Regions from separate parts of the Homo sapiens genome. Here regions 2 and 3 are each linked to region 1. The links come from fine-mapping of genetic effects on gene expression. A gene starts in region 1. Each other region holds a variant in brackets. All regions are shown on one strand. Distances are between the middles of the regions.

Region 1 (2,764 bases):
GTGCCTCAGCCTCCTGAGTAGCTGGGATTACAGGTTGCTCCACCATGCTGATTGATTTCTGTATTTTTAATAGAGATAGGGTTTTGCCATGTTGGCCAGGCTGGTCTTGAACTCCTGACTTCAAGTGATTCACCCGCTTGGGCCTCCCAAAGTGCTGGAATTATAGGCGTGAGCCATCACACCCAGCCAAGAACCACTGCTTTAAAGGGACATTGGTTGACTGTGCCTTCCTAAGGTAAAGGCCTTCTTGTTTTCTTCCAACTTAAACATTTTATCTGCTACACTCAATAACCATCGAGTATGTTTAAGAGAAAGTGCTTTATATAACAAAGCAGAAAGGCTCTTGATAATAACTTAGAGGCTTCATCCTTGCATTTTTCTCAAGATGAAAACGCTAACATAATGAGCTGTCAAGGTAGGTTCATCAATTGTAACAAATGGGCCACTCCAGTGGAGGATGTTGATCATGGGGGACGCTGTGCGTGCGTGGGGAGAGGGGATATATGACGTGTCCCTATACCTTCCGCTCAATTGTGCTGTGAACCTAAAACTGCTCTAAGAAATAAAGTCTATTAAAACAAGCAAACCAGCCAGCTGCAGTGGCTCACTCCTGTAATTCCAGCACTTTGGGAGGCCGAGGTGGGTAGATCGATTGAGCCCAGGAGTTTGTGAAACTCCCTCTCCACAAACAATTTTTGTAAAAATTAGCGGGGTGTGGTGGCACGTGCCTGTAGCCCCAGCTACTGGGGAGGCTGAGGTGGGAGGATTGTTTGAGCCTGGGAGGTTGTAGCTGCAATGAGCCATGATTACGCCACTGCACTCCAGCCTGGGTGACAGAGCAAGACCCTGTCTCAAAAAAAAAGTTAAACAACAACAAACCCAACAACCAACTAACCGAAACACTAAGAATCAGAGAAGTAAAATATAATTCGCTTCATCCAGACAGCTAGCCCGGTGAGGACTACAACCTTCCTCTCTTCCTTCTTCACTTCTTTGCTCTCTCTTTTTAAACCCACATCTTAGCAATTCCTCTGCTATTGGGTCATTAAATCGCCACCTCTAATTTTTTTTTCTAAGCATTTATTGAGGGCCAAGCACTGTGTTACACATCTCCTCATTAAAATGGTATAGCAACCTTTTCTGGTCGATATTATGATCCCATTTTTCAATTTTTACTTTTGAGTGAAGGACATTGATTCTTAGAGATTGTAAGGAACTTGCCCAAGGCTGCCGGCTGGTTAGTGGCAGAGCTGGGATGGGAAAGTCCGTATTTTCCACCGCGCTGTATTAGTGAGGGCTCTTTGTGTCACTTCTGTGCATAACTCCGCCCCAAGTTAAAAGGCTCGCTGCTCTCGACAGGTCCTCCTCCTCCTCCCGCTAGGTCCTCCTCCTCCTCCCGCCAGGTCCTCCTCCTCCTTCTCCTCCCGGGGCCCTGCCCTGCGGGTCTCACCTGCTGCTCCGCGGGGTCCCGGCGGGGGCCGGATAGCGCCCCCTGGCGGCAGGTGGGCGCCCGCGCAGCGCATGCTAATGAGCCCGCGGCGCCGCTCGCGGATTGGCTGGCGCGGATTCCAGCTGCTTTCCAAGTCAGCGGCGCCTAGTGAGAGTCAGGGGGGCCCGGCCCGCGCCCTCCCCGCCCAGCCGCCTCCCCGTCGACGCCCAGGGCTGGGGCGAGCCAGGCTGCCTTTCGAACTTGGGGGGCTTCTCCTCTTGTCTCCCACTGGTGCTCTGGCTGTGAATCCATCCAGGGGCCAGGATGACAATCCGACACCAAGGCCAGCAGTACAGGCCGAGGATGGCATTTCTCCAAAAGGTAACCCTGGCCCCTCACCTGGACCCTGGGAGGAGGGCGGGGGACCGCATCTGCGAAGCGTCCGAGGACAAGAGGGGCAGGAGTGGAGAGCACCCCTTTGGGTCGATTTGTGCTGCTCGATTTTATTAAGTGACTTCTTTGCTGTGTGTGTCGATATTGATGGCTATAATAATTAGGTTTTCGTGTGCCCTGCCTGTAGTGGAGAATCTGAAGCCAGCGCTGATGGTCTGCGGGAGGTGAAAACAACCTGTTACTCGGGAGAGGCAGGTTCAGTTCAGGCTGTGGCAGATTTGAGACAGCCTGCTGATATTGTTGTAAGACGACCAGATGTGACATTGCCATTTTTGCCTTTTTTTTCTGATCCCAAACTGCACTATTTTAAAGTGTGTGTGTGTGTACACATAGACCATGAAAACGGGGTGATTTGTAGGATAAAGGGCCACCCCATTTACAATGCCCTGAGAGCCCTCATTTGAGTGTGTCTATCTGTGCATCTCCTGCTGTCTGCGCTGGCGGCAGAAGTCCCAACCTTTTCGCTTCCCTTGCGAATGCTTTCCCAGACAAAGTGACCGGGCACAGGGTGTGCACACAGGATGGACATGTGGGAGGTGGAATGCACCTGTGGGGTGATGTGTTTGGGGACAAAGTGGTTCATTTAGTTCTGAGCTTCTGGTATAATCACTGTCCGATGAGATCTACAGAGGATTAGGTCCCGGGTCACATCTTTGTCCTTCCTCCCACCCGTAGCCACTTTTCACAGCGTAGTGTCCATCTTCTTAGGCTTATCTTGTTGAGTAGAATTAGTTGAATGTTTTGTGACAAGCTGAGCTCTCCCTGAGCCCCTGGAGCTCAGCAAATTTGTATAGTCAGTGACCGCTGTCCTGATTTGCCCAGGACTTTCAATGCTAAAACCTGGACAGTCCTGGGGACCCCGAGACGGTCGCATTTGGTCCA
Region 2 (2,764 bases), 22 kb before region 1:
TCCATCTTAAAAAATAAATAAATAAATAAAATAAATTCTATCATTATGGGTACAGAATTTGATACATATACAACAACTAAGTCAAGTCTGTTAGTTGCGTTATTTAAATCTTCTAGATCCTTACTATATTTTCTTGCTCTATAAGTTACCGAGAAATGTATCTTACAGTCTTCCATAATGATTGTGGATTTGTCACTTTCTTCTTTGAGTTGCTTAATTTTTGCTTTCTGTATTCTGAAGTTATAAGTATGTATAGATTTGTGATTTGATATCTACTTGTTGGATTGACCCATTATAATATGTACCTTTTAATATCTAGTAATGCTTTTTGCTTCAAAATCTTACTTCATACTGCTATAGAATGCCTGGTTTCTTTTGTTAGACTTTTACAGTCTATCTTTCCTCATCCTTTTTCTTTAATCATCGATCTCCATGTATTTAAAGTGTCTCTTTTAGAAGTCACATAGAGTTAGGTTTTGTATTTTTCATCCAGTATGATAATCTTAGTCTTTTTCTTTTTTTTTTTTTTTTGACGGAGTCTCGCTCTGTCACCCCAGGCTGGAGTGCAGTGGCGCGATCTTGGCTCACTGCAACATCTGACTCCCTGGTTCAAGTGATTCTCTTGCCTCAGCCTCCAGAGTAGCTGGGATTACAGGCACATGCCACCACGCCCAGCTAATTTTTGTATTTTTAGTAGAGATGAGGTTTCACCATGTTGGCCAGGATGGTCTTGATGTCCTGACTTTGTGATCTGCCCACCTTGGCTTCCCAAAGTGCTGGGATTGTAGGCATGAACCACTGCACCTGGCCAATCTTAGTTTTTTATTTGGATTATTTAGTCTATTTAAATAATAGTAAAGTAATTATTGATATAAAGTTGGGTTTATTCTATTTGTTTTCTGCTTGACCCATCTGTTTTCTGTTGTTTTTCTTCTTTCTTGCATTCTTTTGGATTAAGAAAATATTTTCTATCATTCTATTCTTTACCTCAAGCTTGTTAGTTATACATTGTTTTGTTACATATTCTTTTTCTTTAGCTGTTATCCTAGAGATTAAACAACATGCAATCTTGACTTATTTCTGTGTAATACAAATTATTACTTTTACCAGTTCCCAAAACATTTAAAACTTTAGGAAACTTTAGTTTTATTTATCTCCTTCCTCATTTTGTGTTGTTGTTATACATGTTTAGTTCTACACATATATTTAAATTCCATAAGACATTATACCTATTGGGTTGGCAAT[A/G]AATATTCATTAATAATTACCTATATATTCATCCATTCTGGTATTTTTCTTCTTTTTTGAGAGACAGGGTCTTGCTCTGTCACCAAGGCTGGACTGGTGTGCTAGCACAATCATGGCTCATTGCAGCCTCAGCCTCCTGGGCTCAAGCAGTCTTCCCGCCTCAGCCACCTGAGTAGCTAGAACTACAGGCATGCGCCATTATGCCTGGCTAATTTTTAAATTTTTGTAGAGGTGAGATCTCACTATGTTGCCCAGGCTGGTCTCAAACTCCTGGGTGCAAGCAATCCTCCCACTTTGGCATCCCAAAATGCTGGGATTATAGGCACTCCTGGCATATATATATATTAAAATATATATACCAAAATATATATATATATACATTTTAATTGAAATATGGTATTCACTCAGAAAACATGTACAGATCAATACATTTTCACAAGCAGAATGTGGTACATATATTTTAAAACATTAAATTCTGTTTAAAGAAGCAAAATTTTGTATTTTAGGAACACATTACTTACTGTTCAAACAGATGGTTTCCTGAGGAAATGTGTGTGACTTCACACTATGGGGCTGTCTTTGTCAGCCCTCCCAGACTGCCCCATCTGTGACTTGATTTTTTTTTCTCCTTGTCAAGGTGTCCTCCTCAATTCAATTCACCTCTGCTTCAGGCCAACCGAGACAGGGTCCTTTTGTCAACCTTCTGGCTTCCTTTGCCCTGAGGGACGGAAGCCTTTCCCCACAACCCCCATCAGCTTCTCTTTCTGCATGTTGCTGATCTGGAGACCTGCTGTCATTTGTGGCTGCTCTGAGACATGGCCTGGTCATGGGGGCAGAGCCTCCCTTTGACTGCACCATTTGTTAGCTGTGCTTTAGCCTTCTGTGGAGATTACGACTGGAAAGGCTTGAGACATTGATGACTGGTTCAACAACAAGAGCTTGAACTGTATGGGAGGAAAGACTGAATACTACAATTTTAGCAGTCATTACTGGGGAAGCTGGCAGGAGGATCATTTGAGCCCAGGAGTTCGTGACAGCCTGGGTAACAGCAAGACCCTGTCTTATTAAATTATAATAATAATAAACTGAATTATGGACAAAACGAAGTTAACAAATTTTTTTAGCAGTCACCATTCCTTAAGCACCTACTGTCAGGTGCTCTGCCAGAAACTTCTATAGAGCATCTCATGAATCCTCAAAATAATTCTGTGAAGAAAATATCATTACTATCTGATATGGTTTGGCTGTGTCCCCAGCCAAATCTCATCTTGAATTGTAGTTCCCATAATCCCCATGTGTCATGGGAGGGAGCCAGTATGAGGTAATTTAGTCATGGGGGTGGTTACCCTCATGCTGTTCTCATGATAATGGGTGAGTTCTCACGAGATCTGATGGTTTTATAAGGGACTTTACTCCTTTTGCTCGACACTTCTCCTTCCTGCTGCCACGTGAAGAAGGACGTGTTTGCTTCAATTTCTACCATGATTATAAGTTTCCTGAGACCTCACGAGCCATGTTG
Region 3 (2,764 bases), 30 kb before region 1:
AAGACCACCTCTCCAAGACCATTCCGGACCCAAGGAGTCAGTCATATTTTTCGTAATTGAGATTTATTACAATTTAAAAAGGAATCCCTTAAGTGAGTTTACAGGGGAAAAGGTTGGAGGAAAATTATTCTGTCCCCTAATGGGAAGACCCCTAAAAATGTTCAAGACACAGACTCCCCTCTTCCCAGAAAATCCCTCCTTTGTGCAGAGACGTCATCGCTGGAAAGCCCCTCTTGATTGTGCTTTTAGAAATAACTCCTGTTAATCTCCTTTGAGGGGTAGTTGCAAATTCCTCAGAGATTGATTTTTTTTTTTAAACACAAAGGGAAAGAAATGGAGTGACTGTCATTTTTATCAGAGAAGTTTAAATGTCTAACTGGCAAAGTAGGTACAACTCCGCCATCCACCGTTAGCTCCCTCTGCCTCACTACTAAGGAGATGGTTATTTTACCCGATGAAGTACCGTATTTATAATCTGAAAAGTTATGACTGAAAGGACGAGGATGCTTTAAGCCCTGTCATCAGAAACTGCATAACAGTGTGTGTGTGTGTGTGTGTGTGTGTGTGTGTGTGTGTGTGTGTGTGCTGGGGAGGACGGGGCTGTTGGCTGCTGCTGAAAAGAATCACTCCAGTAGCCATGGCTCCTCAGTCCCCTGGCCATCCCAGGAAGAGCAGGACCACCTCTCAGCATCCCCCAGTACAGTGTGGGGTTGTGTCTTTGCTCCCCTCTCTGCTGTTGGCCTCATGGCTGACCCAGTGGCCAGAAACACTGCCAAGTCCTGACACTGCAGAAAGCCAAGGATTGTGGCTCCAAATCAAGCTGAAATGAATAGCTTTTGTTCCAAAACAATTCTGTGAGCCAAGAAAGTGTCCATGCAGATAAAGCTTGCAGTCAGTCTTGCACAAGGAGCCCCAGCCGTGTTTTGCACGCTGTCTGAGTGACTGGCGCTGTGCCCGGAATGCTGAGTGGTGAGGCTATCCTCAGAGCCTTCCCTGTGCACCTGATCTTGGCCCATTTCTTGAGATTGTGGTTCAGCTGCAAATGCTTGTTTAGCAACAGAGATTGAAATAGGAAATCCCTTTCCTTAGTGTTGGCATAAGACATTGTTCCATACTCTTTCCCTCCTTGGGAAGATTGGAGCCTCCTAGCTTCAGGAGCAGGCTGCCTGAGAGGGAGGGGGCAATTAGGATTTTTCTGATTCAGCTCTCTTC[T/G]GATATATCCAGGTTAGTCTACACCTCCTTCCTGTCTACCTAGCCATATCATGGGTTCCTTCCCAAGTTCACTTCCTCTAGGAAGCATTCATTGACCATCTGTCTTAGTCCATTTTCTGTTGCTATAACAGAATGCTTGACATGGGCTAATTTATAAAGAAAAGAAGCTTATTTGGCTCACGGTTATGGAAGCTGGGAAGACCAAGGGCATGGTGACAGCTTCTGGTAAGGGATTTTTTTTTTTTTTTTTTTGAGACAGAGTCTCGCTCTGTCACCCAGGCTGGAGTGCAGTGGCCTGATTTCAGCTCACTGCAAGCTCCGCCTCCTGGGTTCACGCCATTCTCCTGCCTCAGCCTCCCTAGTAGCTGGGACTACAGGCACCTGCCACCATGCCTGGCTAATTTTTTGTATTTTTAGTAGAGACGGGGATTCACTGTGTTAGCCAGGATGGTCTCAATCTCCTGACCTCGTGATCTGCCCGCCTCAGCCTTCCAAAGTGCTGGGATTACAGGCGTGAACCACCATGCCTGGCCCCTGGTAAGGGATTTCATACTGCATTATAACACAGCAGAAATGGGGAAGGGCAAGTGAGTGCACGCAAAAGACACCTCAGGGCACTAACTCAGTCCCTTGGAAATGATCTCACTCACAAACAGCATTAATCCACTTATGGGGCTCTACCCTTATTACCTAATTCCCTTTTAAAAGGCCCCACCTCTCAATACTGTTACATTAGCAACTAAGTTTCCAACACATGGACTTCTGAGGGACACACTCAAACCTATAGAAGCATCCTGTGATCACAGTCCCTTTTCAGCTCCTGTGCAATTAGGATCTGTATGCTTCACATGAGACACATTTTTATTCTGTGCTGTGTATTGGTCATCTCTCTCTATATACTTTACCACCTCAGCTCCCAGAGGACAAAGATTATGTTGTTTATTTGTAGCAGTCATGCCACTGGATTCATAAAAAGTATTCAATTAAATCTCACTCTTTGCATTAGGTTGTCTAACTGAGTTTTTCTTATGTGTCTTTACTGTCTGGTCCCTAGAAGGCATATTGTGACAATGATAACATCTATCACTACCACTCCCACCCTATTGTCACTGTTCCTATATTGCCTTAGGGATTATATAACTGTTTCATATTCATTATTTTCATTTGATCACAAGCACCCTTTTAAATAGATAGGGCAGATATTAGATGTTTTTTTCCTTAGTGGATGAAAATACTAAGGTTCAGAGAGGTCAGTTAACTGGTCCAGTGTCACACAGCTGACATCATCTATTTTTCAGCTTCACTGAGGCTAGAAAAACCAGTGGTCTCATTCTGAGGACGGCTACGTGCATATATGTTAAAAGGACTTTGTGAACTGAGGGCTCATACAATGGTGCATAGAATTATGATTAATGGCAGCCAGACACGGTGGCTCACGCCTGTAATCCCAGCACGTTGGGAGGCCGAGGCAGGCAGATCACGAGGTCAGGAGATCGAGACCATCCTGGCTGACATGGTGAAACCCTGTCTCTACTGAAAATACAATACAAAA

The links. PIP is the estimated chance that this variant, and not a neighbour inherited with it, causes the effect. A credible set is the group of variants that fine-mapping cannot tell apart.
Region 2: its variant is the best candidate, but not a certain one, in a credible set for the expression of RGS9 in subcutaneous fat (FUSION, PIP 0.74).
Region 3: its variant is the best candidate, but not a certain one, in a credible set for the expression of RGS9 in thyroid (GTEx, PIP 0.55).

The regions. Positions count from the first base shown.
Region 1 is chr17:65,135,788-65,138,551 of GRCh38, forward strand. RGS9 (regulator of G protein signaling 9) reads left to right here and starts at 1,583. Exons shown (of 19, transcript NM_003835.4): 1 at 1,583-1,810. The coding sequence starts at 1,754. RefSeq lists a silencer at 1,273-1,772.
Region 2 is chr17:65,114,089-65,116,852 of GRCh38, forward strand. No RefSeq gene overlaps it. Among named protein-coding and RNA genes, the nearest start is that of RGS9, 22 kb to the right of the region's middle. The variant A/G (reference allele first, on the strand shown) is at 1,246.
Region 3 is chr17:65,105,862-65,108,625 of GRCh38, forward strand. The region is part of intron 2 of LOC100507002 (a long non-coding RNA gene); the gene reads left to right. Among named protein-coding and RNA genes, the nearest start is that of RGS9, 30 kb to the right of the region's middle. The variant T/G (reference allele first, on the strand shown) is at 1,213.